3 linked regions of the Homo sapiens genome follow. The protein of the gene in region 1 interacts with the protein of each later gene in a biochemical or structural test. Each region holds a gene or a part of one and is shown on either strand. Other genes may lie near its edges. The genes, in order: RALA, RGL4 and GLS2.

Region 1 (11,280 bases):
GGTTCCAACCATAGGCTAGAAGGCTGCTGTAGTAATCCAGAATATCTAGACAGGGCAGCTGAACTCAGTGTTTGGTCACGCAGTGTGGCAACCTCCACTTTTAATGGAGTACTATGTTAGCTTCTCAACTACATAAGAAAACAGATCCTGTGGCTTAGATGACCATAATCATAACTTTTGGAAACTGGGGGATCTTTGCCCACCTTCCCAATAAATCTGGGAGTATACGCCATTTTATAATCTAACTATGTCTTATTGTCCAAAATAACATTACCAAACCCTGACATTTAGTTTCAAAAGTAAATTCAGCAATAAAATTGGATCCCAGACTTTAAGGAGACTATGTATGTCAGTGTTACATCTATTGCATCTAATATAGGACCCTAGCTGTGAAGGCCTTTAAGAATAGTATAATTTTATGGAAGCATGCCTTTTTTGGCTTGTAAAGACTACCCTCTTGACTTTCAGAAACTAAGTCATCACCTTCACGTATAATTAAATCAAAGATGCAAATTCTCACCTAAAATTTACTCATACATATTTTAGAAACCCATAGAACTTTAATTTCTTTTTTTCTATACGGCAACCCAAATCCTTATGAATGCGATAAGGTAATAAGAAAGATGTCTTAAAGAAAAAACAGAATAACTGTTACTTATGGGGGCCAGACAATCAGCTGTTTTTTACTTAAGGGTACATCTTTTAAAAAAAAAAAAGAGAGAGAGAGAGAGATGGACACATTCTTCAAATTAAGCCTATTTAAAAGTGCATTTTAAAAAGTGCACAGGCTTAGGAGGGAAGAGAATTCTACCAGCACTGAATAGCAGCTAAACCCTTACAAGACTTCTGCCACTTTTAAGCCTCCATCTTAAACCCAGAGAAAATGATTAATGGTCTCAAACGGTTAAAAACAGACCAAGCACATCTCTGCTTCTTTTACCATTCTTTCTACTGTCCCCCATAGCTTCTCCCCCATTTCCATTAGTGAAAGAACGAACTAAAAAAAATGTGATTTCAAGGAAAGGTCACTACAAATAGATTTATGGTATTCCTCTCAAATAGGGACGATTCTGTTACTTTAAAAAGCACTAATCAAACACCAGAATTGAGTCCAAATACTTTACCGGGACACCCACGGGAAAAATGCCCAACCATTTTTCCATCATGGCACACATGGACGGTGATAACACTGTATTTGTAGGCACGCTGAAGATAAAAGAGAAGAATGGCTGCTGCTTGAGGCCACCTGGCCAGGACTGCTGGCAACCCCAGGCCACACTTGATGTCCAAGAGAGAGGAATCAGTATCTTCACCTTCCTGAAGCTCCAGTTCCAGCTCAGTCAGAACTGCCTTTTCCACAGCCATTTAGGATTAACTGCAATAATACTCAGTGCTCTCAGCAATTGTTACTTTCAAATCTAGGCTCTACTAAACACAAGCTAGGTGCCTAGCCTCTGGCAAATAACTTCAATTTACCTTAATAAAGTATGGGAAAACTACCTGTCTTGCAGAAGTGTTGTGGAGATTAGAAATAATTTAAGTAAAGCTCTTATCACAGTGCTCGGCAGGCAATCAACACATGAGAACTCTTATTACCAAGAGGGTTGCTGAATTAAAGAAGGAAAATCTAACCTCTGTATAGTGGTAATGTCACTGAGGTAAGAAATTGCTGGCTTCCCTCTCCTTAGTGTCTAAGAGTTAAAATATTTTATAAAACAATGAAAATCATAAACTGTCTCCTTCAAAATCATAGTCTTTTTCCTCATTAACATTCACAGCCTCTTATTCCAGTATTTTAAAAGTAATTGTCCTTGCCACTCATCTACTAAAGAATACAAATGCATATTACACTGATATGCATATCTACAAGAATTGACACTGGTACATGTATTTATGTTCTGTAGAAGCTAAGCTTGGAAAAACAGTGCAGGACCACCACCACATACTTGGAGAGGAGAGAAAACGTCAGCACTTTCTTCTTATTTGAACCTCCCTAATGTGAAAATAATCCAACCATCTACAGACAAAAATATTCCCTCACAAATGGTAGACAAGATTCTTTTCTATAATTAGCCCTTTCTTCCTTTGGAAAGCCCTGTGAAGAAAGTGTTGTAATGAAGTACTGCTTCAAAATAAATGATCCATATTATTGCACACTCAGCAAACACACTAGAGAACAGCATCTGGATCTTGGAAAATAAATGTAAAAGAGGCTATTGGTAAATCATGCCAAGGTCACATCAGGATTTCAGAGGATTGCGTGTATTCATGGGAAGAATGAACCACTATAAGCATTCTGGGAAGCACCACGTTATCCAAACAATGGTAACTCCTAATTTCCTCTTTTTCATTAAGATAGGGTACAGTTATCAACCCCAAACATAAACTTGATGTGTATCACCAGGCAGTCTCTTCCTACTAACTCTGAATATGCTCAAGTAGTAAGCATTTAACACTAGAATACAAGTTATAATGCCCAGCACAATTTTAATATAATTTTAACCTTTCAGAGGAGGATAGTTTTGGAAGGCAAAGAACTCTGACTGCTGAAGAATGAAACACGAAGTAAAGTCTGTAAGTGGCAAGAACCTAAAACAAAACAAACAGCCTAGCCCAACAAAAATAAGCAACTCCTGGATGGTGACTGTGAGATAACCTATACACTCATTCATTCAGTGCAGAAATGTGTGAACAGCTTCTATGTTCAAGGCATACTGCATAGAAACAGTCATAAGTAGGACATGGCTCCTGCCCTAAAGAAATCCAAGGTCAAAAAACGGTGTTGTCAGATAATACTTCACAATAATAGTGTATTATTTTAATACAGGAGTCGGTTTAGAATAATATTGTATTACCAGAGACAGAAAAACATGAGCTAATAAGACACACTGAAATACATTAATAAACATACTGTAAGAGTTTACCAATGAAATCTGTTATCCAATTTCTGGAATATGATTAAAGTTGCAATTTACTTTCTGGAAAAGAATTAACTTATGATACATGTTTTATAAAGGTTGTTCCCCCCCCACACCACACAATTTGTAAATTAGGTGCTTTTCAGCTTGACACGTAGGGCGTGGCACGGGACTTCTCACACTACCTCAGCCACACTTGGATGAGCTCTTACAAGTCTGGACATTCAGGTTTCCGAGCACAGGCCAGTTAACTCCCTAATTCTCCCTAAATCCTGAAACAACACTGCCACCCCTGTGTGCCGTCACCCCCGTCTACTTAAACACATATATCCAGGCTAAAGCATGCCAATCACATCTTCCACTTCTGGAAATCTTTCAGAAACGAACCACAGAGGAAACACCTCTCTCCCAAAATGTATTCTCTTCCTCATATTAGAAGCTAGATTACCTGAAAATGGGCTAAAGCTGTGCAAGCGCCCAAGGCCAGGTATTCAGTTCAGTGCGGAGAGTCTAATGACTTTAAGTCTGAAAAACCATTCCTTTAACTGGCAAAAAAAAAAAAAAACACAAACAAACAAAACAAACAAACAAAAAACCCTGGCGGAGATGCTTAAAAAGCAGCGGCTCTAGCACAGGCAAGGAGTGGAAAGAAAGGGAAGGAGGGGAGAGGGGTGGAGTGAGGCGCGGGGACTGCGGCGGCAGCGGGTTGCCCCAGGTCGCGGGCACCGCCCGGGCGGGAACTTGGGCGCCGTGGACGAAAGGTGCGGGGTGACCTTCGGACGAGGCCAACTGAGACCGGCTGCCGGGCGCAGGGGACCTCTCCGCAGCCGCTCACTCTCGGGGGCTCACTCGCCCCACAGCGGCGAACGCGGTGCCCCGGATTCCAGCCGGGCTCATCTCGCAGCTCGTCCCCGGGCAGAACGTGGGATGTGCAATCTCGGCAGCCCGAACCCGCGTCAGGGCCTCGGCCCGCCGCCGCCCGGACACACCCCCGCCGCCGCCCGGGTGGCCCCAGTCCCTCCCCGGGCGGCCCGAGCGGGCATCGCTCACCTGCACCGCGAGCCAGTCCGCCGCCCCGAGGGCTCCGGAAGCCGCGGCTGCGTGGCTCCGGCCGGAGGGTACTCGGTCCTTGTCGCCTGGAAGGCCCCGCGCCGGGAGCGGTCGAAGGAGGAGTCTGACGGGTGGCGGGGGAGCCTGGGCGGCTGGAGGAGGAGGAGGAGGAGGAGGAGAAGGAGGAGGAGGACTCCGACGCTTTGCTCTGGGGAGATCCACCCTCCTCCTGGCGGCTCTGCAGCAGCCGCCACAGATCACTTCCGGGGCGCTGGGGAGCGGGGCGGGGCAGCTGGGGAGCGACTTCCTGTCCGTGGGCTGAGAGGAGGGTGATCATGGGCCTGGGCCGCAGAACAGTGGCTCGGAGGGCGCAGGCTGCCCGGCCTCCGCCCCCTGCAAGCTGAGGGCTGTCCGCGCTGTCTTTCCGACGGCCCCACCCCCGGCTCTCTGAGCTCCGCGAGGTGAAGTCATCTCCCGGGGGCTCGGGAGTGGCCGCGGGCCTCGCGGAGGTTCCCGGATCTCGGCGTCGTTGCCGCGGTGTCCTTGTCTTTCTTTTGGGGACCAGGAGGGGGTTCTTGGGGGAAGGAGGGGAGAGCGGAGGCCGCCATCTTGCTTCTAGAGGGTCAGCTCATGTTCCCTGGGCGTCTCAGGGTTGAGGCCGCTCGTGTGGCGTGGCCGGGGGTATTCAGAGCGGAGCTGGCGACGTGGCTTGTCACGGGCCAAATCCCAGGAGGCGGGTCAGCCGCCTACCCTGGCTGGAGGGTCTCGTGGCTGCCCTGGGCCTCATCTAACTGCTGATCCCCTGGAGAATTCGCTTTCTCGGACGGTCTGCGAGTTCTTTCTGAGGGGTGTCGGACCCCCCTGCGACTCTGCAGGTGTCGGTGTGGCACTGAGATCATCTTGCGGCCCCATGGCACTGTGATTTGGTAGCTTGTGAGAAGTAGTTTCACTAAATCCGTAAATTTAAGTTAGCAGCTACAGATTCTTATGTCTTGACATTTATTCGCTTATCTCTCTTTGCTCCCCACAAATTGAGTACCAACTATATTCCTGGTATGAGCCATTCAAGGAATGTCCAGTCTAGTGGGCAGACATACATGAAAGCAAATCATTGCTATTGGAAGTATGGTTTATCAAGATGTACAGCGTGAAGAATGGATAGCTTTACTAACGTAGGTTAGAGTTTTAAAGATAAATAGGCATTTTCTACTACAAAAATAGGGGTGGGATGGCAAATCCGGATCCGAACAGAAAGGAGATGCAGCACGGGGACAAATAATTTGTTGAGAAGAATGAGTAATAATTACAGGTCTTGAAGTTCAAACTTAGGTTGCTGAAGAAGATGAGGCTGGAGAAGAAAACAGGAGCCAAATCACGAATCGTCTATGCCTTGGTGAGGCAATGAGTGGACAGATTACAATTTAAGCTATTCTTCTGTTGGTAGAGAACAGATAACTTGGGGGGGTGGAGGTGGGGGGGCAGAGAAGGATAAGCAGAGAGCCCACAAGGGGGCCATTGCAGAAGCCAGTAAGAGAAAACTTAAGGACCCTGTGTGAATGGTAGTGAGCATCCAAAGGAGATGGATTCCTAAAATATTCAAGAGGCCATATCAACTGGTAATTGGTTGCTAGGGGCAGCTGCCAGATAGGAGAATGGAAGAGGCAATGATGATGCCTTGTTTTGCTTTGAGGGAGGGGCAGGATAAGGGTGTATTTTACTAAATAAGATAAGGAAGAGTTAGGATGAGTCCTGGGAGGGGACATTTTTGCAGAAAAAAAATGAGTTCAGTTTTGGAGTTGATGAGTGAAGTAAGAGTGGTGCTGTCTAATGGTGGTTGCTATATGGGTCTAGAGCTCTAGGGAGGAGCTGGGCTGAAGTTGGAAACACCACAGGTTTAGATGACCATAACCAAGCTGACTGCAGTCTTACGTCATTGAGCACAGTTTCAAAACCACTTCTCCTTTCTCCCTGCCTTTACTTGGGAAAATTACTGAAATACTGCATTAAAAAACCCAATATGGTGATATGTGTCCATCCATAGACCAATATTCTAATGTTTAATGGTCTTCTAAGGACCCTAAAGGTCAGGTTTAGCAGAAACTGGATGTAACAGTGGTAACTATTAATAGTATAGCATCATTAACTCATAAAATGAAATATTATCTATGTTTATATTTTAATATTTTAATTTTTTTCTTTTTTATTCTGTAGGAATTGCTCCATTCCAATAAAAATATTTTAAATTTAATCATTGACAACAGTTAAGCTGGCCATAGGCTGAGGATTGAGGATGGTGGGTTGCACAAATATCTGCTGAATGGAGAGCTAGAAGGAGGATGACTTCAAGAAGAGTCAGCAATAGGAACGCAATGAAAGACAACCTCAAATTCATTAGTCAGCCTGTCTCAGCTGCTTTTTGGTGGCTCACAGCTATGCTAACCTAGCATAAAGCAGTGAGAAATAGAATACTTCATTTTGAGCAGAGCTTCAGAAAACCACAAATAGTAAAAGCCCTATAAATAATAGCTACAGCTGCAAACCAAAGACTAATTATTAGTTTTTAACTCTATATCCCTGTAGAGCAGCATTTTTGAACACACAAAAAAAGAGAAACGCGTTCACTTACGTCTTAGATTATTTAAATACAGTATTCTCAATTTGTCTAGGATAAAAAAGCATTTAGGTGTATTGAACAACCATATAATGGATAATATACTGAACAGGAAATGAGAATAATTAGCTTGAGTCCCTTTTTTGTCAGTTGTTCACCGTATGACCCTAGCAATGTTACTTAACCTCTCTATGCCCTAGTTTCTCTGACTGTAAAATAGAGATAATAATAACTTTCTATCAGCCGCCTCTCAAAGATATTATAGGAAATAACAAATTAATGCTATGAAAGCTCTTTGAGGTACTTGGATGAAAGGGCATAATTGTAAGTACATATTATTAGTAATTAGCACTAATATCCAGTAGCACCCATGAGCATTCCTGACTTTGCTGCCTGGATTACTCAAAGAACATGAAGGATCCTGTTTTGAAATACACTTAGATCTTTTTTCTTAACTTGTGAATTGACTTTACTATTTATGATCAAACCTTGTGTATTAACAAATATAGTTAATGAAAGAGGGAAGTAAAAAGAAGTTTTGGTAACCACAACTTTTATATTCATGCTACTCATAGCTAATATATGCTTTGGGGGAAAATACAGGGTAGATAGGGATTTGCCAGAAGCATGTTTTAGAATTAATGATTAGTCTACTCCAGTCAGTTAACTGGAATTTTGTATTAAAAACATTATTCATGTCCCCATAGAATAATGCAGTCCCTATAGAATTTATAGACAGTTACATGTTTGACACAATTAAGTTGAACATTCCTGTGAAACTCTGTCATTCTCATCACTGTTTAATCACAAACATGTAATGAAATATATAGACTTGTGAAGTTTTGTCCAATGTCTATCCCTAAAGTAGATGAGAATTTTTTCCATTAAATTGGTGACTTCAGTATTTCCTTTAGAGAGGTGTATGCATAATGTAAACATTTAAATGTATTCATGACTACATAATGTGCATGTTTATTTTTATACACTTGCTTATATACCAATTTATAAAATTATCATATAATGTATATTAACTATACATCTGGGAACAGCAATGACAAACAAGGCTTCTTTGTGTTTTAGGGCCAGATAAGAAAGTAATTGGTTAATAGCCATTTGTCACCACTGGTGAAAAATCAACTCAAAATCATGTTTTATTATTTATTAGAGTTATGAGCATTATCTATAAGATTCATGACACCATGACTTGGTGTGGTGGCTCACACCTGTAATCCCAGCATTTTGGGAGGCCGAGGCATGTGGATCGCTTGAATACAGGAGTTAAAGACTAGCTTGGACAGCATAGGGAGCCCTCATCTCTATTAAAAAAAAAAATTAAAAAAAAACAACACTAGGCAGGCATAGTGGCATTCACCTGTGGTCCCAGTTACTCAGTAGGCTGAGGTGGATCCCTTGAACCCAGGAGGTCGAGGCTACAGTGCCTGTGATCATTACACTGTACTGCAGCCTGGGCAACAAAATGAAACCCTGTCTCAAAAAAGAAAAAAAATTCCGTGACACCTTGACATTTGTACTATTTCATTTTGTTTTCACAATTTTGTGAGATACAAATTGTTGAAAGAAATAGGCTCAGAGTGCTGAAAGACTAGCGCTCTGAGACTAGTTTTTAAAGACTTAAAAATTCACTACAGTTGTCAAGTAACATACCCAAACACACATTTTGAGATTCTCAAAATATATTGTTTCTTTTAGTACTTTATACCAGGGTCACCAGCTTGATATGACAGTCCAGAATGTATTTATAATATGGACATTTCTGGCTTATTATTGATTGCCTGCAGCATCTCCAAAATTCAGCCAAACTTAACGTTTTTAAAACTGAAAACTACAATTCTTATGTTTATGGCTGTATCTTTACCAGCTTGAAGACAGGTACATTGTTTTATTCATTTTTGTATCCTTCATGGTGCCCAAAATAAGTACTCAGAAAATATTTTGGGGATGAGTAAAATGTATATTGTGATGTTTAGTTGAATTAGCGGGAAAAAAGCTGATACAATCACCTCAGAAACTTTTTTAGGAGGTCGTACACATTTTCAGCACATTCATGTGAAGATAGTTTATTTGGGTTTGTACTTTAAATTGGTGGAACCATTGCCTCAATTTCCCACTTCATTTTTAATGACGTCATGCCTTGGAGAGATAGGCTTAAGTAGGTGATGCAGATGACAGTCACCTGTATGATATGCCTCTGGATATGTTTGTTGGGCTTAGATAGTCCGGATGACCCACAACAAAAGGGTCATCTAGAATATCTAAACACAGCTTTAATGAGAATGTGTAAAGAGTGGGGTTATGAGAGTTTGGGTCTTCATAATTCTCCCCTTCATGCCGACGACCCTTGTGGACCACATATTTCTATACTTTTCTGTCAAGGGATTAGAGGATAAGACTACTCTATCAGTGGTTCCCAAATGTGACTGCTTATCACAATCACCTGTGTAGTTTCAAAGGCAATTCAGATTCTCAAGTCCCACTCTAAACAGAAAATATTTAGATTTAGGATTAGAAAATACTGGGTGAAGTCCAAGGCATCTGTAACTGTAATAACACTCTCCCTTGAATTCCAATGATCAGTCAGGTTTGGGAAGTTCTGGTTTCAATAACTTGTTCAAGGTCACACAGAACCCTAAATAGAGCCAGAAACTAACTCAAATCTTTTGAGTCCAAGTTAAATATATTTTCATTGGACTCCTGCTGTCCATTTACTGACAATATATGATGGGGTAGGATGAAGAGGTGGGGAGAAAAGTAGCAATTTTAGTTTTTTCATTTTTATTTTTTACCATATTCTATGACATGGTTTTAAGATTAAATGAGCTAACATCCATAGAGTGCTTAGAACAGTATCTGGCACATGGTAATTAGGTGTAACGGTTCAACGAATAAGTCTCCATTGTCCAGTCATGGCATTCACTTTGCCTGGGGTTACATTAGGTAACATTTTATTGGATATCGACTTTTTCTATGAAGAAAAAAATGTATGTAAATAAAGGTGGAATCTTTAGCCTTTATTTGTCATGGAAGCCCTGAATTTGTATAGCTGAAAATATTTCTATATTGTTTCTTTTCATCTTTTCTGATATATTAAGAAAATGTTAATGATATACTTATTAAATAAAATTGTGGATGTATAGCTGTGTAGTATTTTTATATTATCTAATTTAGCATATAAGATAAGGTATTTTACATTGTCTTCCTATCACTGAACTAGCTCCAAAATTGATTCTTATTGGTATGTAATTAAGCATTTAGTTTTTAGAAGTTATTGTTTGGATTGATCTTCCAGATGAAATATTTCCCCTTAACGAGGTAATAGATATACGTGGCTCTATTTTATTCCCTTATTTCTCTGCAAGTTTTTCAGTTTTTCAATCTTGAACAACTTTTTACACTTGTTAATTATAAATAAAATTATGCATTTTCATTACTAGTAAGGGAAGAACCCAATTTAATACTTTAAAATGCTCTTTGATACATTTGGACAAAGTCTGTGAAAATATGCCTTTGGTCAGTCCCTGTCACTATGAAAATTGACATCCATTTTTGTTTTTATTCAGTTTTATAAGTTATATTATTTTTGAGGGATTACCCTATACCCAGCATCAATTTCTAGTGGCTCCTGTAATCCCAGCACTTTGGGAGGCTGAGGCAGGAGAATGGCGTGAACCCGGGAGGCGGAGCTCGCAGTGAGCCGTGATCGCGCCACTGCTCTCCAGCCTGGGCAACAAAGCGAGACTCCATCTCAAAAAAAAAAAAAAAAAAAAAAAAAAAAAAAAAAAAAAAAAAAAAAACCAATTATTGTATTATAAATGAATTGATTTATCCTGGAAAAAGGTAGAAGTAGTGATAGACCAGAACAGAAGATATTTATAACCTCAGGAGGTATATGGCAGGTAGAGTAGATCAGACTAATGGAGAAGCTAGAAAAAGAATCAGATATCATCAGTGATGAAGCTCCTAACTATTTGAATCCAGAGTCAGCCAAGGAAATGGGGTTAAATTACCACTTGTGAAATATTTGCAGTATTTCAGACATTGTATAAGGCACTTACCAAAACAAGAAATGGCTGGCTAGGTCCCATGAATCTAGGTAGTTTGAGTCTTGAGAGTCAGAGAAAATAGTAATAGTAAACAGGATATTTATATTACTCTATATTTCTACACTTATATACTTTATTATAAGAATTCAATTAATAATAACATGAGTGTGTGTTAGTTACTACTTATAATCAAATTAACAAGTTTTGAACTATACTCATTCCTTCCTCCATTCTTTTTACAATAGAGGCCATCATTCAATGCGTATTCTAGGTCTTGGCTACTCCTGTCTAGTTGGGACCTTGGTCCATCAATTATTCTCTTTCTGTTGTGTCTTCAGCCTCTCACTCTTTACTGGTTTCTTGCCATTAGCATTCTCATTTGTTAAAGTGTCTTCTTCATGCATATCCTCCTTCTAGCTTCTGCTCAAATTATCCTTTCCCCTAAGGAGAATTTTTGAGAAAATTGTCTATGCTTGCTTATCACCAATTCCTCACCTCCAAGTTACCCTCAACCATATATTAGACTTTTACCCCCAATACTGCTGTGAAACTACTCTTGATAAACTTACCAACATCATTCCTATTATGAGATATATCTTAGTTGTTAATGTTTCAATAGTATTTGAAGCTATTGACCATT
Region 2 (9,399 bases), on another chromosome or scaffold:
GAATGTAACATTGTATCCATTTCCCAGTTCCTGCCCGGACTCCCCAACCCCCCGCCTCTCTTCACCACTGTGGAACTTTCTAGTTCTAGGAGATAAAGTCGTTTAGAGAGAAAGTTGATCTCATTCTCACATGCATGAAATCATGCTGTTTGTCTTTCTCTGCCTGACTCATTTTGTTGAAGGTCATGTCCTCCAGGTTTCTGCACGTTGCTGCAGATGACATGATTTCATGAATTTCTGCGGCCGAAGAGGATTCCACTGCGTGCTGCAGTTTCTTTATCCCTTTATCTGTGCATGAACAGGTAGGTGGATTGGATACCTTTGCTATTGTGAGTAGTGCTTCAGTCACCATAGGAAGGCCGATATCTCTTCAACATAACAGATTCCATGCGCTTTCTGTGTATAACCAGTGGTGGGATTGATAGGTGAACGGGTAGTTGTAATGTAAAATGTTTAAGGCACCTTCAACTGCTTCGCTTCGTGTGTCTAGTAATGTACCTTCCCACCAATAGTTTATAAAAGTGTCTTTTTCTGCGTTTCTACGTTGGCCACTGCCTGTGAACATATGGGTTTTTTGTTGTTTTTGGTAAGTTTCATTCTAATTAGAGTGAGAGGTATCTGAGTCTGGTTTGCAGTTAGACATTTGTGTGAGGATTAGTGAAGTTGAGCAACTTCTCTTTGACCTGTCAGTCAATTTCGTGTTTTCTCTTCAGATGTGCCTGTTCAGGTTCTTTGCCCAGTTTTAGCTTGGGTATTAGGTTTTGTTCATTTTTCCAGTTAAGAGTAGTGTTAGTTTCTTGTACATGTTAGATAACAACCCCTTTCACAGATGATTCTGCTGAACTTTCTTTCAATCTGTAGGATGCCTTCTTTAATGGTTCATTGTTTCTCTTCCCCATGCGGAAGCTCTAAAATGATGTTTAGTCCTATGTGTTTGTATTCACATTTTTGTTTTCCATCCAAAAAGAATAAAAAATAAGAAAAAGTATTGCCAAATCAATTGCATGGTCAAAGGGTTTCTTGCCATAGATAATTTTTGGTTTTCTTTTCTTTCTTTTTTGCAAACTGCGTGCATAGATACAAGTTTTGCCGAAATAGAAACTCCCGCTTTTCTTATAGGAGCTTTGCGGCTCCAGGATTGGATTTAGGTGTCTATTTTGTGTTGATTTGGGGGTATTACATGTTTCAGACCCTGAAATGTTGATTTCTTTGGCATGTTTTTGTCTGATATCCCACAATGGGGGTTGTGTTCAAATTAAGCTGTGGGACATCTTTTAGATACTGAGTTCAAACAGTTCTCACCTTCCTTGATGTTCATTTAGGGGAGAGGTGTCAGAAGGTCTGGGAAGATCCACAGTGGAAAAAGTTTATCTGTATTTCGTGGAGACTGATGGCCAGCTCCCTTCTGCCCAGGACTTCTGGAGAAGGCCAGCCCTACCACTTGCTTAAATACCTCCCATCTCCAGCCCTTCAGTAAATATTTAAGTGATTTGTTAAATATTTAAACCTTAAGAAAATTGAGTAACCCAGTGGAACTTGAATTTAACTAGAATTTAAGTTTGAGAATAGCTGGTCAGTAGAACAAATGTGACATACTATGGGTGACATAGATTGGGTGACATACTATGGCTTTTAAGGGGTTTTGTTTTGTTCTGTTTGTTTTCTTAAGCAGAGTTAACAATAATTTGAATAAAGAAGGAAAACATTAAATGCTTGGCATGTGTAATGTGAATGCTATTCCATAACTTGTTCAGCCATAGCCTCAATTTGACATGCTAGGCTATGAATCCTAAAGACTGGTATATGGTTACCGCACTGGAGTTACTTTTCTCATTCCAACAACTACAGAACATTTTGAATAGTTTTTTAAAATTTTATTTTAACGAAAGTTAAGAAAAAACCCTTACTTATACACTAAAGAAAATAAACATAAAATGGTCTCCCGCCTGACTCACAAAAGTCCCATGGCCTGATCCTGGCCAGCAGGAGCAGTTGGTGATGAGGATCCAGGGCAAGATGCAGCTGAGCTGCCAGCCTCCTAGATGTGGTTCCCTGGTGTCTACGGTCTGGGTGAGGGATGGTGCAGAGCCGGTGTTCTGGCCAGCATCCCGGTGGGTTCCCAGCCACTGCAGGATGTTGCCAGCCTACGGGTTTTCGGGCTCCAGCTGGCAGGACAGCTTGTAGCTGCAGGACAGAGAAGCAGCTGTGAGGCCACCATGAGCCACACATCAGGTCCCCTGTCAGTGCCTGCCCAGCTGGAATCCTGGGTCCCCAGTGGTCCCCATGCAACAGGGCTTGATGCTGGCCGTGGAGGCATGGCCATAGGCTCTCTGCAGCTGGCCACGGGAGAGCCTCCTCTAGGCCAGGTGGGGTGGCTCACACCTGTAACGTCAGTACTTTGGGAGGCTGAGGTGGGTGGATTGCTTGAGGCCAGGAGTTTGAGACGATCCTGGACATCATCGTGAAACCCCATCTGTACCAGAACAACAACAGCAGAACAACCGGACATGGTGGTGTACAGCGGTAGTCCCAGCTGCTTGGGAGGCTGAGGAAGGACTTGAGCCCAGAAGGCAGACGTTGCAGTGAACAGAGATGGTGACACTGCAGTGCAGCCTGGGCGACAGAGCCAGACCATGTTAAAAAAAAAAAATGGAGAGCCTTCTCCCACCCTCAGCCCATGGGCTAGGCCCTCACCTCTCTTTGTCACTGAGCTGCTCCATTCTTGTGAAATAGGTGACAAATTTCTCAAGAGGCCGAAGCCTGTAATTCATGGCAGCCACTTGGAGCAGCTGCATTTCCTGCAGAACTCGGACCTCCTAGAGACAGAGGACAGGATGCTGACAGGGCCTGGGTGGAAGTTGCTGTGGGGGCCTTTGGCAGGCAGGGAGAAGGGGCTGGTCCCTGGGGCAGTTTTCTGAAGGGGTCCCATGCAGCGCCCCCAGCCTGTTCTCAGAGTTGGATATAAACAGCCCCTCCTGCAGGAATTGGTCTTTGATTCCAGTGCTTTTCCCATTTTCTCCTGGGATAGGTCCCCTCCTCCTGTGTGTGTCAAACACTCCCAGTAAGCCTAAGATGTAGAGGATGGAGCCAGGGAGTGTCCTGCCCAGGGTGGACTGTGACGTCCACATCCCCACCCTCATCCAACGTGAGTGCCCCAGCTGCTCACCTTGCTCCTCTTGTTGGTGTTGCCCTGGAAGGCAGACAGAGTCCATCAGAAAGGCCCCTGGCCCACAACCAGCCCCACCCCACCCCTTCCCATGCTGCACTACTGCCAGGGCCACCAGGGTCAGGGGATGTGCACACGACAGGACTTGGACCTGCCTCAGGCTCCGGGCTCTAGAGCAGGGGGAATGGGAGCTGAGGCCCAGGGACCTTCTGCCCCAACCCTCTGTGATGACAGACAGGGAAACTGAGGTCTCTCATAGAAAGAAAGCGCTCAGTGACCTTGGAACTGCCTGCCCTTGGAGAGGCTCAATTTCACCCTCCTATTACGGGACTACCCTAGGGAGAAGCTGAGCCCAGTTCAGCCCACACCTCAGCAGCTTTGCAGTCAGGCAGCTCTGCAGCTTCACCACTCAGGAATAGGGCCTGGTGGCTGCCATGGAGCCTCCATCACTCAGAGGTGATGAGATGGGCCTGACACCCCCACCCACAGGAGCAGCTGTGAGGCTCTTAGGAGAGGAGGTTTGCCAAGGGCTGAGATCTAAAGGCTCGGTCCAGGACCCTCTCCTCCCAAGCTTCAGGATCTTGGTTCCCAAGCACCCTGCCCCAGGCTCACTCACATCCAGGTCGTCCGGGATGGCCGAATCCAGCCTCTGTAACTCAGTCAGAAAATCCCCCAGGAAGGGGACCACACCCTGTGCCAAGGAGGGGTGGGGAGGTGGGAGGGGTAGTGGTGATGAGTATTGGCCCTCAGGTGCCTGCCCAAGGTCCTGTCCCATGAAATCCCATCAGCCCCTGTCTCCCAGAGCCCCCTCCTCAGGTCTCCCGGTTGGAGCAGCCAAAGACCCTCAGCTGCCTTTCCCAATTCTCTGCCTCCTGTATCCCAGCTGACCTCCAAGTCTAGCAAGCACTCCTTGTTAACCTCTATGGTGGGATTTTAACAAGTCACAAAGGCCTGTGGTCCCAGCTTTACCCTTCCCCACATCTAGTCTGAGTCCAGCTTTCCCAGACCCTTCCTCTGGTCTCTCAAATGAAGGTTTTCCAGGCCCAGTGGCCACAGGAGGACAGGGCTGGGGAGGAAGCCCCCGCTGTCTTGATATGGAGGCCTCCAGCTGGCGGGGAAGGGAGCCCTGTCCTCTGATCCCCTGCGGCCCGTCCATGCCACAGGCTCACTCACCTTCTTCTGCCTCCGCAGCCTCATCTGGACTCTCTGGGGGTTCCTCTCCTGGGTGGCCACCTTAAAGCTCCCCGCCTGCCAGGTGTCAGCGACAGGGACAGTGAGGCTCTCCTCCTCTCCCCCAGTTACACCCCAGCCACCCCGCACTTGGATCCCCAGGGAGTGGCGGGAGCCACCTGGCACCGTGCTCATACCACTGGCCCAGATCCACACTCCCTGTGTGTGTCACCCAGTCTTGCAGCCGGGCCTCCCTGAGACTGTTTCCTCTTCTGTAAAGAGTGATGCAAACCACAGCTACCTCACAGGGCCTCTGAGGGCTCAGTTTCCTGTAGCTGTTGCCGTTGTTCTCACCGTCATCCCTCTGAGGAAGAACCAGGCACGAGCACCCTCAAATTGCTTTCTTTTCTTGAACTTCATTTCTACCCTGTGAGGCCTGCACTACAGGCTCAGCATCCCTTCATTTTCCAGATGAGGAAACAGAGGCCCAGAGCGGGCAGTGGCTCCCCAGGGCCCCCAAAGAGAGGACGCCTCCTTCTGCTCCTGGAGGCTCCGTCTCGGCTGCCTTCAGCTCACATCCCAGCACCACCACCCATCAGGGTCGTGTTCTCTGGAGTCTTTGAGTGTCTAGGTCTCCAGCCACATACAGTCGTGATGGGAAAGGGACAGGGCATTTTAGGAGACCTGGTTAAGTGGCACCTGCCTATCCCAGCCCCACTGGAATCTCTGCCACGCAAACTGGGTTTGAGCCATGCCAAAGGCTTCGCCTCGCCAATGATCCCCCAGGGGAGTTCCGTGCACGGAACTCTCTCTTTCTCCACTGAGGAAGTAGCCTCCTGATGCGCCATCTCTGACTGCAATGGCAGGGTTTTCCAGAGTCCTGGGTGGGGTGACATGTTGCCTTCTCATTTGCATGGACGATTCTGAGATCTGGTCAGGGAGGATCCCCTAGCAATGTATGAATCCCCCAGATACTTGTCATGAGCATGCGTCGCTGCTAACCGGTGAGAATCCTCTGACATGACCGTTTTTGGGTGTCTGCAAAGGGCAGAGTGGGGAGTCCCAGCAAACAGCTACGTCTGTCCCCAGTATGCCCATTGGTACCCAAAGCTGGGCAGTTACTGGACTCCCTGCCACATGAGCTTCCTCTGTTGTTGTTCCCCCTCTCCCCCAGTGCAGGCCAAGGCCCCCTGCCCATGGAGGTGTGCTGCAGACAGCAGCAGCAGCAGCAGCAGCAGCAGCAGCAGCAGCAGAGGCCTGGCTTCCTGAGGAATTGCTGGCCGGTTTGAGGAAGGAAGGAAGTCCCACCTACCATGATCACCCTCCAGCCTGGAGGAAGCTCCATGCCAGCAGCATGGACCAGCATGGGAGCCAGAGCCCTGCTAATGCTGCAGCTCATCACCCCTGCTCAGCAGCCCAGCAGCCCAGCAGCCATTGCCACATCCCATTTCCAGGGCCTCCTGCCCCCATGCCCCCACGTGCCCATGGACCGACACACCACTCTTCCTGTTGGCCCAAGGTAGGCATGGAGGGAATTTTTCAAGTCCACTTTTAGTAGGTAAGTCAAAACCAAACAAAATAACCACTCGACACCTGGTCCAATGCCCTTCCAAACTCACTCTTTTCTCTGACCCTTAAACACTTGTCCTGCATCTCCCAGACTCCACTGTACCTTGATCAGTAGGTCCCTCTTCACTGCAGTGTCTTTTTTGCAGAGTTCTTTTAGCTCTTTCATGCTTTTGCTATGGGCAGAGGAAAGAAAGAAGGGTAAATTTGGGAATCAGGGGAGATTTGTGAGTTCCAGTCCCTTTTGTTTGAAAACCCAGTGAATCCCAGCTTACTGGGTGAGAGTTTTCAGTGGAGTCCTCTGATCACAGGGGCTCCAGAGGACCAGGGTGGGACCTCTCATGCTCCTCCCCTGGGCCCCATCTCCACTTCACATGAGCCACTGCGTGTTTACAGTTAGCTTTCAGCTGGACACAGAGTTCCACTGCTGGGTACAAACACCTGAAAGCCTCCAGTTGGCTCCAGTCTGTTCCTGATGGTTAAAAAACCTTAGTCCTGAGTTGGAAATCCTTGCCTAGGAGTCCAGGGCAGCTTAGTGACCACAGCCACCGGCCCATCCCTGCCTCCAGTGTCCCTGGACTCCAAGAACCTTTCAGAGTCATTGAGGGCACATGGGGGGAGACCTGTGAGTCCCTAGGTCAACCCTGATGCTGCCATGGAGAGAGCCCTCCTCACCTGGACACTCCTGCCCACGTCTTGTGTAGCTGACCTATTGGGTTGCTGCACAGAGCAGAGACGATGACGTGCACCGAGGAGAAGTTGTTGAGGCTTAGGCACTCCTGGAGAGGGAAGAATGAGCTGTGCGGTTCAGAGTTGGAGCTTGGCCCACTACAGCCTCAGCCCCCTCTGCTGAGATCTCCCCTCCTGGATGAAGCAGAGGCCTGGGGAGCCTCAGGAGGGCAGACCTGGGGCCGAGTGGATGTCACTCATCTAGGAGGATTTTAGTTCAACCCAAGGAAGACCCCAGGTCGGAAGTGAGCAGCCACCACTGGGCCGTGGGAGTCAAGGTGAGTGAAGCTCTGGCAAGAAGAGCCTAGGGGATGTGCAGGGTCCAGGCCAGAGATACAGATGCCGATCCTGAAAGCCGATGGAGGAGAAGAGGAAGTTCCCCATTTTTAAAGAGGGAATCCCCAGGCCCAACCATAGCTTACCCTGGCCACCTTGATCCAGTGCTCCACCACCCTGGCCCTGTCCCGGGCCCTCATGCTGTGGTCCCCGAGGCAGGAGGTGGTGATGCAGTTGGTGAGCCTGTTGAAGTGTGCGATGGTGGCACGAACTGTGGGTGCCATGTGCTCATTCCCCTTCAGATGTCCTTGGCCCCAGATGCAGCCCAAGCATTCGTGGAGCACCACCTTCTTGAACAGCTCCTTTGGGGGAGGAGGAGAGTGTCACGGACACAGCACACTGCAGCTCAGAGTCACCCACAGTCCCAGGCAGGGACTGAGCTCACAGTCATCCACGGTCTCTGGCAGGAACCAAGCTGGAGCTCAGAAAGCTTTAAAATGGGCTCCAGACTTGTGGGAGTCCCTGGGTTTGGTTTTCTGCCCCCGAGGGACCTGAATGCATCATGGCCTAGAACCCAACAAGGGTGGGAAGAGAGAGTGACATTTTCTCCCAGGCCATCCACACTCTAAGAACTAGAAGGTGGCTCAGGCCTGCCCATCCTGAGGCCTCGTCTTCCTCCCATCCCAATCAGCCCTCTACTACTCCTCTCCGTACCGGTGCACTTTCCTTGTGGCAGCTGCAACTATGGGCTCTGTTTGGGTGTCTACCATAGAATCCAGTATGCATCAGGTACCTAATAAGTGCTGAGGGTAGTGAGGCTCCTGAGCAGCTGGGTGAGTGACCCATGGCCCTGCCTGCCCCACAGTGAGCACCTGCCCTGCCCTGCTTTCTGTCCATCTCCTGTCACTCAGTCTGCACAGTCACTCTGTGCAGCTGGCGCTGGTGATGTCCCATCTCTGCCGTCCACATGCAGACAGGGAAGGCTTGTGGGTGAGGAAACTCATCCAGATCCCACGGTTGGTAAGAAGTGGGGCTGAAATTGGACCGAGGGCATTGGCTGCTCCTCAGGGAGAGGCTGGTCTGAGACAGCTGGTGCCAGAGACACAGCCTGCAAAGCTCAGCTGCTCACCGCATCCATGAGGGTCAGCTGCTCTGCCAGCAGCCTGGGAGGGAAGGTCGTCATGTCAGGCAGCTCCTCACTGGGTTGGTTCTTTACAGACCCACGACAGGGACAGGAGGACTCTGGGGCTGACTGTGGCTCCAGCACTGTCCCTGGAGGGGGCCCTTCCCCTGGTGCTGGTGCTGGCCCTGGTGCTGAATGTAGATATCCTGGTGGACCCAGGGCTGCAGGTGACTCTGGCTCCAGAGCAGGCCCCAGGTCCGCCAGCAGTGGTGGTGCTGGCTCCAGGGCCGGCATTGTTAATGCGTGTTGCCCAGGACGTGGAGCAGGATCTGGAAAAGGAGAAAAGGTCACCACACCAGTCATTTTTCACTGGGTTTTCCAAGCACAGAAATGACCGGGTGGAATTTAAGGGAATTGTAGCCCCAAAACACCACCCCCGGAAAGTCTTGCAGACTGCAAGCCCCCTCACCATCTGGCTTGGCCTCGTTGGGCTCCGGAAGCACCAACTGGCCTAGGACAATTTCCTGATGGTCCTCCAAGCCCAGTCCAGGCCAGGAGAGGTTCCTGAAGGCCAGCTTTATCCGGAAAGATGACCGTTGCGGGGGCTGATAGTAAACTGAAGTGTTTTCGGGGGGCCAGTTGAACAAAATGGAGGTGATGGTGCTGGTGATGGAGTAGACAGCTGAGTCAGAGGCCTGGCCTTCTCCCACACAACCCTCCAGGGCACCCCTGCGTGGTTCTGGGTCCCTGGCCTGTTGCTGCCAGTGTGGAGGACAGCCCCACCCTACCGTAAGCCATCAGTGCTGTCCTGGAAGGGGCAGACCTGGCCATACAGCAGGGCTGTACAGACCCTCGTGCGCCCTGGCGTCCCACAGACATTCTCTTCCCAAAGGCCCTGGAGCACAGCACTGTACACCTGGGCACTCAAGACTGCAGCTGCAGGCAGATTTGTGAGCAGCTTCCTCATCAAAGCTCCAGATCTGGGTCCCCTGGTCCTGGGGTTAGGAGGGAAGGGGCAGATGTCGGGGGGAGGAGGACAGGGAGAGCTGGGAAGCCACGGTGCTGAGGGGGATGGGTCTCTCAGTGGCCAGCTGTGACCCCAGCCTCCCCTCTGCTTTGCAGGGGACCTAAGTCTCCATTTACAGAACTCACTATTTGCCTCTTGTGGGGGAAGTCCCCAGATGTCAGCCTTCTCGTGGGAATTATAAGAAGTATGAGCCCCAGAGCTCCTTTAGTCTCTCCCCAGCCAGAGTCCACATATTTTCCCCCATGTTTTGTGGGTGAAAAGGCCCTTCAGAACCCTAAATCCACCCAGTTTATATTTGTTGCTGGGCTGCGTCATTCTAGTCAGAATCTGGGAGGATGCCAC
Region 3 (11,194 bases), on another chromosome or scaffold:
CTGGGCATGGTGGCTCATGCCTGTAATCCCAGCACTTTGGGAGCCTAAGGTGGGCGGATCATGAGGTAAGGAGTTCGAGACCAGCCTGACCAACATGGTGAAACCCCATCTCTACTAAAAGTACAAGAATTAGCCGGGTGTGGTGGCGCGCACCTGTAATCCCAGCTACTCAGGAGGCTGAGGCAGGAGAATCGCTTGAACCCAGGAGGCGGAGGTTGCAGTGAGCTGAGATTACGCCACTGCTCTCCAGCCTGGGCAACAGAGCGAGACTCCATCTCAAATACATAAATACATAAATAGGTAAGATTGATTCATCTCCTTCTACAGAGATGACATAGGTGCCAGGAAAAAGGGATGGGAGGATACTTTTCACTATCTTTTGTATATTTTGAATTTTGAACCATATGGAATATATTATCTATTGAAACAATGGATTAAAAAATAATACTCAAACAGCTTGGCATAGACTAGGCATGTGTGTGTTTGGAGTCAGGAGGAGTACCAGAAGAGGGAATACCAGAAGAGTTTTCCTGCTTCTGGGGAAATCCGGTTGTCACAATGAAGCTAATGCCTATAGGGGGGAGAGGAGGAAAAAAGCTATCTGAGGGATAACTCAAGAAGGAAAGTACATAGGAACACTCTGAAGGCAGGACTCTGCCTGGAAGCCAACAGAAGACAGGAAATAATGCTATACCACTGAATGTATCACAAGCCTAAAAAAACTGCATATCCCTCAGATATGGATGGATCACCAATGTAATGTTGAGGGAAAACAAGCAACGTACAACAGCAATGTGTATAGTATGATACCAAAAAAGCAAGGTATAGGAACATTGTTTATAGGATACCATTTGTATAAAAAAAGGTAAAGTAGTATCAGCATGTATTTTATGCATAAAATATCTCTAGAAGACTATACATGATATTAATGACATCAAATTATCTCTGGGGGCAAAATTTCCTTGGAATTTATGAAATAATTGAACAAGTGTACAAGACTATATAGTAACCAAATTGAAGACTGGTTATATAAACTATGATACCTCAAACAATGGAATCTTTTAAAATGACAAGATGACAATGTCATACACATTCGATGATATTAAAAGCTGTTCATAAATGAAAAAGATAAGTTCAAGAATATGACTATTATCCCATTTTTGTTAAATTACATATACATATATAGGATATATATGAATATATCACAATATTAATTGGTTATCTCTAATACTGGGATATTTCTTTTTAAAATTTTTAAGTAATAAACTTATTTATTTATTTTTGACACAGGGTCTTGCTCTGTTGCCTAGGCTGGAGTGTGGTGATGCAATCATGGATCACTACAGCCTCGACCTACAGGGCTCAAGTGATCCTCCCACATCAATCTCCCAAGTAGCTGGGACTACAGGCATGCGCCACCATGCCTGGTTAATTTCTGTATTTTTTTTTTTTTGGCAGAGACAGGGTTTTGCCATGCTGCCCAAGCTGGTTTCGAACTCCTGAGCTCAAGTGATCCCCCTGCCTTGGCCACCCACAGTGCTGGGATTACAGGTGTGAGCCACTGCACCTGGCTCTAAATTTATATATTTTTTAATTGAAACATAATTGTACACATGTTTATGGGATGCATAGCAATGTTTCAATACACAGGATTATAGTGATCAGATAAGGGTAATTAGTATATCCATCATCTCAAACATTTATCATTTCTTTGTGTTGGGATATTTTCCTCTTGATACTCTTGTGTTTCTTTTAAAGTCATAAATATGGCCCGGCACGGTGGCTCACGCCTATAATCCCAGCACTTTGGGAGGCCGAGGCAGGTGGATTATCTGAGGTCATGAGTTTGAGACCAGCCTGGCCAACATGGTGAAACCCCATCTCTATTAAAAATACAAAAATTAGCCAGTCGTAGTGGTGGGTGCCTGTAATCCCAGCTACTCAGGAAGCTGAGGCAGAGGTTGCAGTGAGCCGAGATTGCGCCACTGCACTCCAGCCTGGGCGGCAAAGAGACTCTGTCTCCAAAAAAAAAAAAAAAAAAAAGTCATAAATACAGCTAAATAGCTAAATATTAAACAAACAATAACCTGAATAACAGCGCATTTCCTCTTTGCTGCTCTCTTTCCTCCCCCAAACACAGGAACCCCACCCCATCATGGTGTCACACTGCCAGAGCACATCACTCTCCAGTGCTCTCAACCCTTTCTGCCTGGGGAGCACCAGTCCGAGGATATGATAGGGGGTTCCCTGGGCAGAAGAAACAAGGTCCCCTAAAAACACTTCCATCACCAGACTCCACTGGATAAGGAGGTGTGTGTGTGGGGAACCAGGGATACCTCTAGTTCCCTACTCTGCAGAAGGCGGACAGATGAGGGAAGTTCAGCCTTTGCTGTATCCCACCATTATTTCTCCCATGGTGAATACCTGGGGGGAAGTTGGGGTGGAGACTAGAACAGGAGGGAGAGGGCTTATCCTTTAAATGTTCTGTGTCTCTTTAAGAAGAAGCTGATGGGAAAGTACTGTGTAATATGGATAAGCAGACACCATGACTATGAAAAAGAGAAAAGGGCCGGGCGTGGTGGCTCATGCCTGTAATCGCAGCACTTTGGGAGGCTGAGGCAGGCGGATCACCTGAAGTCAGGAGTTCAAGACCAGCAGGGCCAACACGGTGAAACCCTGTCTCTACTAAAACTACAAAAAGTAGCGGGTTGTGGTGGCGCGCACCTGTAATCCCAGCTACTCGAGGTAATCCCAGCTATTCGAGAGGCTGAGGCAGGAGAATTACTTGAACCCAGGAGGTGGAGATTGCAGTGAGTCGAGATGGTGCCACTGCACTCCAGCCTGTGTGACAGAGTGAGACTCCGTCTCAAAAAAGAAAGAAATAAAAGTACTGCATAATGTCATTAATAATAAATAATACCTATTGGTGTCCCTTACGACAGAGACTCGAGTAGTGGTGAGGTAGTGTTGTGTCAGAGACTCGAGTAGTGGTGAGGTAGTGTTGTGTCAGTCTGGCTACTTTACTGATGGTGTCCATGTTTCTGAGTGTCATCAGGGAGATGGCAGCGACGAGGGAGATGGCCCATTTCCTGTTCCTGCTACAGTAGAGCAGGGGCTCTTTGGACAGTGTCTATGCTGGCCCTCTGGGGAGGACAAGATTTCCTGCTCAGCACCGTCTGGGTCTCAGAGAAAAAGGCTCAGCCACCAAGTGTGTCCTAGGCGGTGGGGAAGATAAAGGTTTGGCATCCTGGGTGGAAGAAACACCCAAAGGAAGAGAACGTTTTAGATTCTGGAGCCTGGGCAGCACAAATAAAGGCTCTGACTGGCTCTGGTTTGGGAAATCTGCGTCTTAAAGACCTTTCCTCCATTACAAATATTCTCCCCATTCAACAACCAGTTTGGAAATTCCCCCCCATTCTGCTGTTCAGGGAGCACTGCTACGCACACACCCAACACTTATGGACGTACCTGCGCACCAATAATACACGCGCATCACACATTACCTGCCGAGAACACGCAGAAACACAACACACAGACCCCAGTACACCTGGACCGGAGGCAGGAGGCTGTTCCACATCCACGCATCTCCTAAAATACACACGAGGACTAGGGAAGGTGAGGACTGGCGGCGTGAGCCCGGCCCTGCACTCAGACACGTGAGCCAAGCAACACTCGGCGCGCATCTGTGATCCGGGTTAAGTGCGCACCTTGGACAGGCGCCATCCCCAGGACCCGCTTGCCCGAACGCACTCCTAGGCAGACGGCAGATTACCGCCCGAGCGCGGCGCACCCAAAGCCCCACATCCAAAGGAAAAGGCACCGAGGGCTAGTGAGCGAGGAGAGGGGAGATGAGCGGCGCTGCCTTGGAAGGGCACTCGGGAACTAGCGAGAACCACAGTGGGAGTGGGGGCAAGCCCGTCCCCTGCCCTGTCCCAGGAGCCTTACTGATCCTGGTGCTGCGGCTGGTGGCTGTGTGGCGTCTCTCTGCCCTGCGCCGCGGCCTCACTGAGGTGGTGCCGGACGCCCCCGCCAAGGAGGGGGCTCCGGCTCGGGTGACCCCAGCCTCCTCGCCCGCAGTGACTGCCAGCCCGGCTCAGGGCCTTCTGCAGAGCCTTCATGGAGCGCATGCCCCAGCAAGCCTCCGGCTCTGCAGGTGCGCCCGGGACCTCTAGCTGTGGCTGGGAAGGAGGGGCGGAGCGAGCGAGACAAGGTGCGGGGGAGTTCTGTGAGGGAGCGCTGGACCTGGAAGACGGAGAATGTGGGCCCGGTGGGTGGGGCTGGGGCTGGGGCAGGAGAAGGGGCCTGCCCCTTTAAAGCTGGCTCCAGGGTTAGGGGCACCCTCAGGACAGGGGCTAGGTGAGGAGCGTTGGGGATGAAGGAGAACCCGGGTGGCTTTCTAGTGGGTGGAGAGAGGGCGGTGCCTGGGAGCTGGAATGGACAATGCCCAGGTCCAATCACTGAGGAAGCAAAAACATTGAGGCGGGGAAAGGGTAAGGTTGCCCAATGAGAGCAAGACGGTGGGACCTTGCGACAGTCTGCGGATGCTTCCGCGTGGGCCCGGCGAGCGCGGGTATCCGCGGATGCTGAGGGCGGGAAAGGCGAGGACAAGCTGAGGCGAAGCCGGTGGGGGCGGGAGGCGCTCCCCGGGAACACCGTGGGGCTGCGAATGATGGAGTTGTCGTGTAGAGAGGAGGGTGCTGCCTCGAGAGAGGAGGCTAAGTAAGAGTGAGCCCAGTTCAGGAGGTCACTCAGAGAGCCTCGACCTCCGAAGGCCAAACCAGCGCCCAGTAACCCGGCGGGTAGCGTGGCGCGCGGCCGACGTGCGGTGGTGCTGAGTGGAGAGTAGGATGACTGCTGGGTACCCCGGGCAGAAGCAGCCGACCAGCACCTCAGGGAGGCATTGGGCGGCGGGAAGGTCGCTCTGGCGGTTAGGAAGCCTGGGTTCCAGTTTGTGTCCCTCTACCATTTATTTGGTGTAGGACTTGTTTTCAAATCTGGAAAGTTAAGACATTAAAATAAGTTGGCACGCAGAAAAACGTTTTATAAACCATGAAGTGCTCCCCACATTTTTCCTATTTTAATTGTTTGCCCTTGTCCTCCTCACGGGCAGAAAAGAGGCGATATACAAAAAGCATTTTGAAATCCAAGAACATTCAGGACTTTTGCCATTTGCAGCTAGAACTTTCACCTTGTATCTCGGCAGCGCCTAACCCAGCATCCATATTTAGTAGGGACTCATTATGTAAATGATAGCTATTATTGAGTGCCCATGGTGTTCCAACCGCTTAGTTTCTCTCTCCCTCTTACCAGAGACCTACAAAGTAGTTATTAGTCTCAATTTGAAGGTGAGGAAACTAAGACTAGGAAATTAAGAATTCTCGCATAAGGTAACCCAGCTAGTAAGTACCAGAACCAGAAATTAGACCCGTTTTTTTTTTTTAACTACAAGTCTCTCCTTCATGCAGCCCTTCTCAAAAATTAAGCATTGAATTGAATTATCCCGGGAGAAATGACCCCATCCCTAAAGGAGGTATTTTATGTGGAAGTATTATGATACAGTACTGGGAGTCTTTTCCTTGTGATAGTTCTGGCTGTATCACAAAATACTAGTTTTTGTTTGTTTGTTTTTGAGACGAAGTTTTGCTCTTGTTGCCCTAGCTGGAGTGCAATGGCGCAATCTCGACTCACTGCAACCTCCGCCTCCTGGGTTCATGCGATTCTCCTGCCTCAGCCTCCCTAGTAGCTGGGATTACAGGCGCCTGCTACCTCGCCCAGCTAATTTTTTGTATTTAGTAAAGATGTGGTTTCGCCATATCGGTCAGGCTGGTCTCAAACTCCTGACCTCAGATGATCCGCCCGCCTCAGCCTCCCACAAGTGCTGGGATTACAGGCATGAGCCACCGTGCTTGTCCCATAGTTTTCATTTTTGGATTAAAATGAGTTTCAAGGGTACTCGTGGGAAAACAAGTACTGAAACCAGTCAGGTGTGTTCTGTGGAAAGGCAGTTCTCCTTTGCCTTGGTTAGGGTTGGAGGGCTTATTTGGCTTAAAACCAGATGGAGTGACATTTGTTTTTGCTTGTTTTCGCCTTCTGTAGTCATTCTGTGTCTGCTGTATCTGTTCTCCTGTCCGTGGAAAGCCGTCTAATTCTGGGAGGGCTTGCTGCTTTATGCTTGGCTTTGCCCAAGAGGCAGAGTTCTGGGTCTCAATACTTAACGTAAACTCAATCCTGCATTAGTTTTTTTCATACGTAACAGACGAATCTTATCCTTGTTTCATAGAAATATGATTTATCTGAAACGTTTTGATCTATTCAAGAGAAAAATACCATCTGTTAGGGAATTTCTAAACATTACCCAGAAGTAATTTGCTTCCTTTTTTTCCTATTTCTGCCTCTTTGAATTAGCTTTATACTCTAATGAGTTCCTTACTCTCTTTCTCCCAGCACTCTTCCACTAATAGGAACTGGTTGGGTAGTGAAGAAGATCTATGCATGGAAGCAGAGGTTCTTTGCTTAGAGAACTAGCTCCAGCTGCACTTGGACCTTTGGACTAACTGTCTCCAATACAATATTGCTGTCTTTGCATGAGGATGGAGCATGAACTGGTGACTTGGGAGGCCAATGGTACTGTGTAAAGTATAAGATGCTGGAGAAGAACAAGTTTGTTGTCCCAGGTGGTTAAAGCTTGGCAGGGTCAGGTCCTCTTTTTGTTTCTAATTTGAAAAATACTCATCATCTAGTTTAATTTGTGCAAAACTATTAGCCAACTATGACAAGGGCAGCTAGAAATGAAGATTTTCATAACTGAAAGAAAGTTCTTTGTGTCTCTAACAGTGGGCTTTTAGGTTAGTCCATGGCTGTGCCAGAGTTTTGTGGTATGTGAGAGAGGATTAGACTTAATGATTTTGAATCCTTAATAAAAGCTAAATCCGGGCCGGGCGCGGTGGCTCATGCCTGTAATCCCAGCTGCTCAGGAGGCTGAGGCAGGAGAATTGCTTGAATCTGGGAGGCGGAGGTTGCGGTGAGCTGAGATCACGCCATTGCACTCCAGCCCGGGCAACAAGAGCAAAACTCCGTCTCAAACAAAAAAAAAAAAAGAAAAGAAAGAAAGAAGGAAAAGCTAATCCTCTGTGATAGGAAATTGATGTTTGGAGTTTGTTTATTTCTTATGATTTAGAGACTCATTTGTTCTACTCTATTTTGTGTGTGTGTGTGTGTGTGTGTGTGTGTGTGTGTGTGATGGAGTCTCGCTCTGTCGTCCATGCTGGAGTGCAATGGTGTGATCTTGGCTCACTGCAACATCCGCCTCCCGGGTTCAAGCAATTCTCCTGCCTCAGCCTTCCGAATAGCTGGGATTACAGGCACCCGCCAATATGCTCGGCTAATTTTCGTATTTTTAGTAGTGACGGAGTTTCACTATGTTGGCCAGGCTGGTCTCGAACTCCTGACCCCTTGATTTGCCCGCCTCAGCCTCTCAAAGTGCTAGGATTGCAGGTGTGAGCCACCGCACCTGGCCTGTTCTACTCTTTAGACTGTAGCTAGGATGTTAATTGGTCCAAGTAAAAGATTAGTTCATTTTTTTATTAATCTTTGTTAATGATACTATTGTTACAAACTCCTTTCTGCCTTAGTTTCTCCATTTGTAAAAGATAAACTTGTATTTTACTGGGTAAAATGTAAGTACTTGGGGCTCTGACATAATGAGCTTCCATTCACTCAATTAATATTTATTTGTTGGCATTCAGTGTGCCAGGTCCAGTGCTGGAAAATCCAGAAATTTAAAAATTTAATAAACCAGTTTCTACTGGGAGAAATGAGAAAGCTTATGTTTAAAATTCCTAATGAAAAATGCTGTGATGTAGAGACATGCAGAAGAAAGTATAAAGGGGACATCTAACTAAGCTGGGGGTGAAGGGCCACTGGGATAGAAGAGGAATGGTGACTGACAGGAGCTGGTTTTTAAAGCACGAGAGGTGTTTCAGACAGAGGGCTCTACAAGAATAAACATAGCCTGAGAGGAACATTTGAGGGACTCTACCTCTAGTTTGGTTGGAATGAAACGTGGGTATAAGAATGTGGACCAGCCGGGCGTGGTGGCTTATGCCTGTAATCCCAGCACTTTGGGAGACTGAGGTGGGCAGATCACAAGGTCAGGAGTTCGAGACCAGCCTGACCAACACGGTGAAACCCCATCTCTACTGAAAATACAAAAATTAGCCAGGCGTGGTGGCATGCACCTGTAATCTCAGCTACTCAGGAGGCTGAGGCAGGAGAATCAGTTGAACCTGGGAGGCAGAGGTTGCAGTGAGCCAAGATCGCGCCACTGCACTCCAGCCTGGGTGACAGCGAGACTCCATCTCAAAAAAAAAAAAAAAAAAAAAAAAAAGAATGGGGACCAATGAAACTGAGGATGTAGGTATGGGATGCATGTTTTAACTTGATGCTAGACTTTCATGGAGTAAATGAAATTTAATAAAAGTTTAAGCGTGTCTGTGATCTACTCCAGTGTGCTTTCCTAATTCTTCTTTGGTTTAGCAATAACAAAATGAACATTTATAGGACTGAAAAAATATAAATATAAGCCTATTAAAAAACATATCATCACACTGGTCCATTTACGATGCCTAACATGCATTTTCTCTATTTTTCCAAATAATATCTTGTATAATCTGGGTTCTCCAATAGCTATTAAAGTAGATTCTAGCAAGTCTTAATCAACAAAATATACTAAAATAATGTAGATTTTGCTAGAATTCCTAAAAAGGATTTAGAAAAGTCTGTAGGCGAAAGCTAATTTGAAGGAATTTGAAAGCCTTTGCCAACACAGCAAGAAGAAAATACCTTCGGGGTTTGCTTGATAGCATTTTCTTTTTTCTTTTTTCCCTTCTCCAAGTTATTGCTAGAGAAATAGTATTTTAATACTTGTTTTTCTTTGACTTAAAGACTATGAAAGATGTCAGAATCTTGTATTACTCTGTAGTGAACAAATGAGACCCTTCTCTAAAAGACTAGGTTAAATTAACTTTTAACCACATTTACCTAAGTGAAATGCTCCATAAGCCATATTTTATTAAGATTGTATATAATTTGAAATTTTTTACATCACCTACTTTGACCTGTCAGTTTGCAAAAAAACTGTCATTCTAGTTTTCTGATTTTCAGGAAAGTTTTTTTTTTTTTTTAACTGTATGAATTTTCTTTTTTTTTTTTTTTTTAAGTATTTATTGATCATTCTTGGGTGTTTCTCGGAGAAGGGGATGTGGCAGGGTCATAGGATAATAGTGGAGAGAAGGTCAGCAGATAAACATGTGAACAAAGGTCTCTGGTTTTCCTAGGCAGAGGTCCCTGCAGCCTTCCACAGTGTTTGTGTCCCTGGGTACTTGAGATTAGGGAGTGGTGATGACTCTTAATGTGCATGCTGCCTTCAAGCATCTGTTTAACAAAGCACATCTTGCACCGCCCTTAATCCATTTAACCCTGAGTTGACACAGCACATGTTTCAGAGAGCACGGGGTTCGGGTAAGGTTATAGATTAACAGCATCCCAAGGCAGAAGAATTTTTCTTAGTACAGAACAAAATGGAGTCTCCTATGTCTACTTCTTTCTACAGACACAGTAACAATCTGATCTTTCTTTTCCCCACATTTCTCCCTTTTCTTTTCGACAAAACCGCCATCGTCATCATGGCCCGTTCTCGATGGTCGCTGTCTCTTCAGAGCTGTTGGGTACACCTCCCAGACGGGGCGGCTGGGCAGAGTCGCTCCCCACTTCCCAGACGGGGTGGCTGGGCAGAGGTGCTCCTCACTTCCCAGAGGGGGCGGCCGGGCAGAGGCGCTCCTCACTTCCCAGAGGGGGCGGCCGGGCAGAGGCGCTCCTCACTTCCCAGAGCGGGTGGCCAGGCAGAGGTGCTCCTCACTTCCCAGATGGGGCAGCCGGGCAGAGGCGCTCCTCAATTCCTAGACAGGGTGGCGGCTGGGCAGAGGTGCTCCTCACTTCCCAGATGGGGCGACCAGGCAGAGATGCTCCTCACTTCCCAGACGGGGCGGCCGGGCAGAGGCGCTCCCCACTTCCCAGACAGGGCGGCCGGGCAGAGGCACTCCCCACTTCCCAGACGGGGCAGCTGGGCAGAGACGCTCACTTCCCAGATGGGGCGGCTCCCAGAGGGGGTGGCGGCTGGGCAGAGGCACTCCCCACTTCCCAGACGGGGCAGCTGGGCAGAGGCGCTCCCCACTTCCCAGACGGGGCGGCTGGGCAGAGATGCTCACTTCCCAGATGGGGCGGCTCCCAGAGGGGGTGGCAGCTGGGCAGAGGCGCTCCTCACATCCCAGACGATGGCCAGGCAGAGGCACTCCCCACTTCCCAGACGGGGCAGCCGGGCAGAGGCGCTCCCCACTTCCCAGACGGGGCGGCTGGGCAGAGATGCTCACTTCCCAGATGGGGCGGCTCCCAGAGGGGGTGGCAGCTGGGCAGAGGCGCTCCCCACTTCCCAGACGAGGTGGCCGGGCAGAGGCGCTCCCCACTTCCCAGACGGGGCGGCCGGGCAGAGGCGCTTCCCACTTCCCAGACGGGGAGGCCGGGCAGAGACGCTCCTCACTTCCCAGACGGGGCGGCTCCCAGAGGGGGCGGCGGCTGGGCAGAGGCGCTCCTCACATCCCAGACGGGGCGGCCGGGCAGAGGCCATCCCCACTTCCCAGACAGGGTGGCGGCCGGGCAGAGGTGCTCCTCACATCCCAGACGGGGCAGCCGGGCAGAGGCGCTCCTCACCTCCCAGACAATGGGTGGCCGGGCAGAGGCGCTCCTCACCTCCCAGATGGGGCGGCAGGGCAGAGGTGCTCCTCACTTCCCAGACAGGGTGGCCGGGCAGAGGCACTCCTCACTTCCTCCCAGACGGGGCGGCCAGGCAGAGGCGCTCCTCACTTCCCAGACGATGGGCGGCCGGGCAGAGGCACTCCTCACTTCCTAGATGGGGTGGTGGCTGGGCAGAGGCTGTAATCTTAGTACTTTGGGAGGCCAAGGCAGGCGGCTGGGAGGTGGAGGTTGTAGCGAGCTGGGATCATGCCACTGCACTCCAGCCTGGGCAACATTGAGCATTGAGTGAGCGAGACTCCGTCTGCAATCCCAGCACCTCGGGAGGCCGAGGCGGGCAGATCACTTTATACTACATATAAAATTTCTGTGATAGTTATTAACAGTA

Evidence for each region.
Region 2: the proteins of RALA (region 1) and RGL4 form a complex in vitro, tested with the Homo sapiens proteins (one study listed by BioGRID).
Region 3: the proteins of RALA (region 1) and GLS2 form a complex in vitro, tested with the Homo sapiens proteins (one study listed by BioGRID).

The regions. Positions count from the first base shown.
Region 1 is NC_000007.14:39,616,514-39,627,793, reverse strand, and holds the start of RALA (ras-related protein Ral-A precursor), read right to left. Parts: upstream 4,223-11,280; 5' UTR 3,969-4,222; intron 3,468-3,968; exon of another isoform or gene 3,367-3,467; intron 1-3,366. UniProt on the Homo sapiens protein: Multifunctional GTPase involved in a variety of cellular processes including gene expression, cell migration, cell proliferation, oncogenic transformation and membrane trafficking.
Region 2 is NC_000022.11:23,691,629-23,701,027, reverse strand, and holds the end of RGL4 (ral-GDS-related protein), read right to left. Parts: 5' UTR 8,998-9,399; coding exon 8,819-8,997; intron 8,694-8,818; coding exon 8,500-8,693; intron 8,360-8,499; coding exon 8,037-8,359; intron 7,270-8,036; coding exon 7,054-7,269; intron 6,910-7,053; exon of another isoform or gene 6,682-6,909; coding exon 6,578-6,681; exon of another isoform or gene 6,079-6,577; coding exon 6,009-6,078; exon of another isoform or gene 5,511-6,008; intron 4,613-5,510; exon of another isoform or gene 4,534-4,612; intron 4,415-4,533; coding exon 4,340-4,414; intron 3,858-4,339; coding exon 3,783-3,857; intron 3,191-3,782; coding exon 3,167-3,190; intron 2,817-3,166; coding exon 2,695-2,816; intron 2,474-2,694; coding exon of another isoform or gene 2,383-2,473; intron 2,185-2,382; coding exon 2,145-2,184; coding exon of another isoform or gene 1,915-2,144; 3' UTR 1,860-1,914; downstream 1-1,859.
Region 3 is NC_000012.12:56,483,992-56,495,185, forward strand, and holds the start of GLS2 (glutaminase liver isoform, mitochondrial isoform 1 precursor), read right to left. Parts: upstream 4,171-11,194; 5' UTR 4,128-4,170; coding exon 3,946-4,127; intron 3,609-3,945; exon of another isoform or gene 3,578-3,608; coding exon of another isoform or gene 3,504-3,577; intron 3,342-3,503; exon of another isoform or gene 2,996-3,341; intron 2,962-2,995; exon of another isoform or gene 2,849-2,961; intron 1-2,848.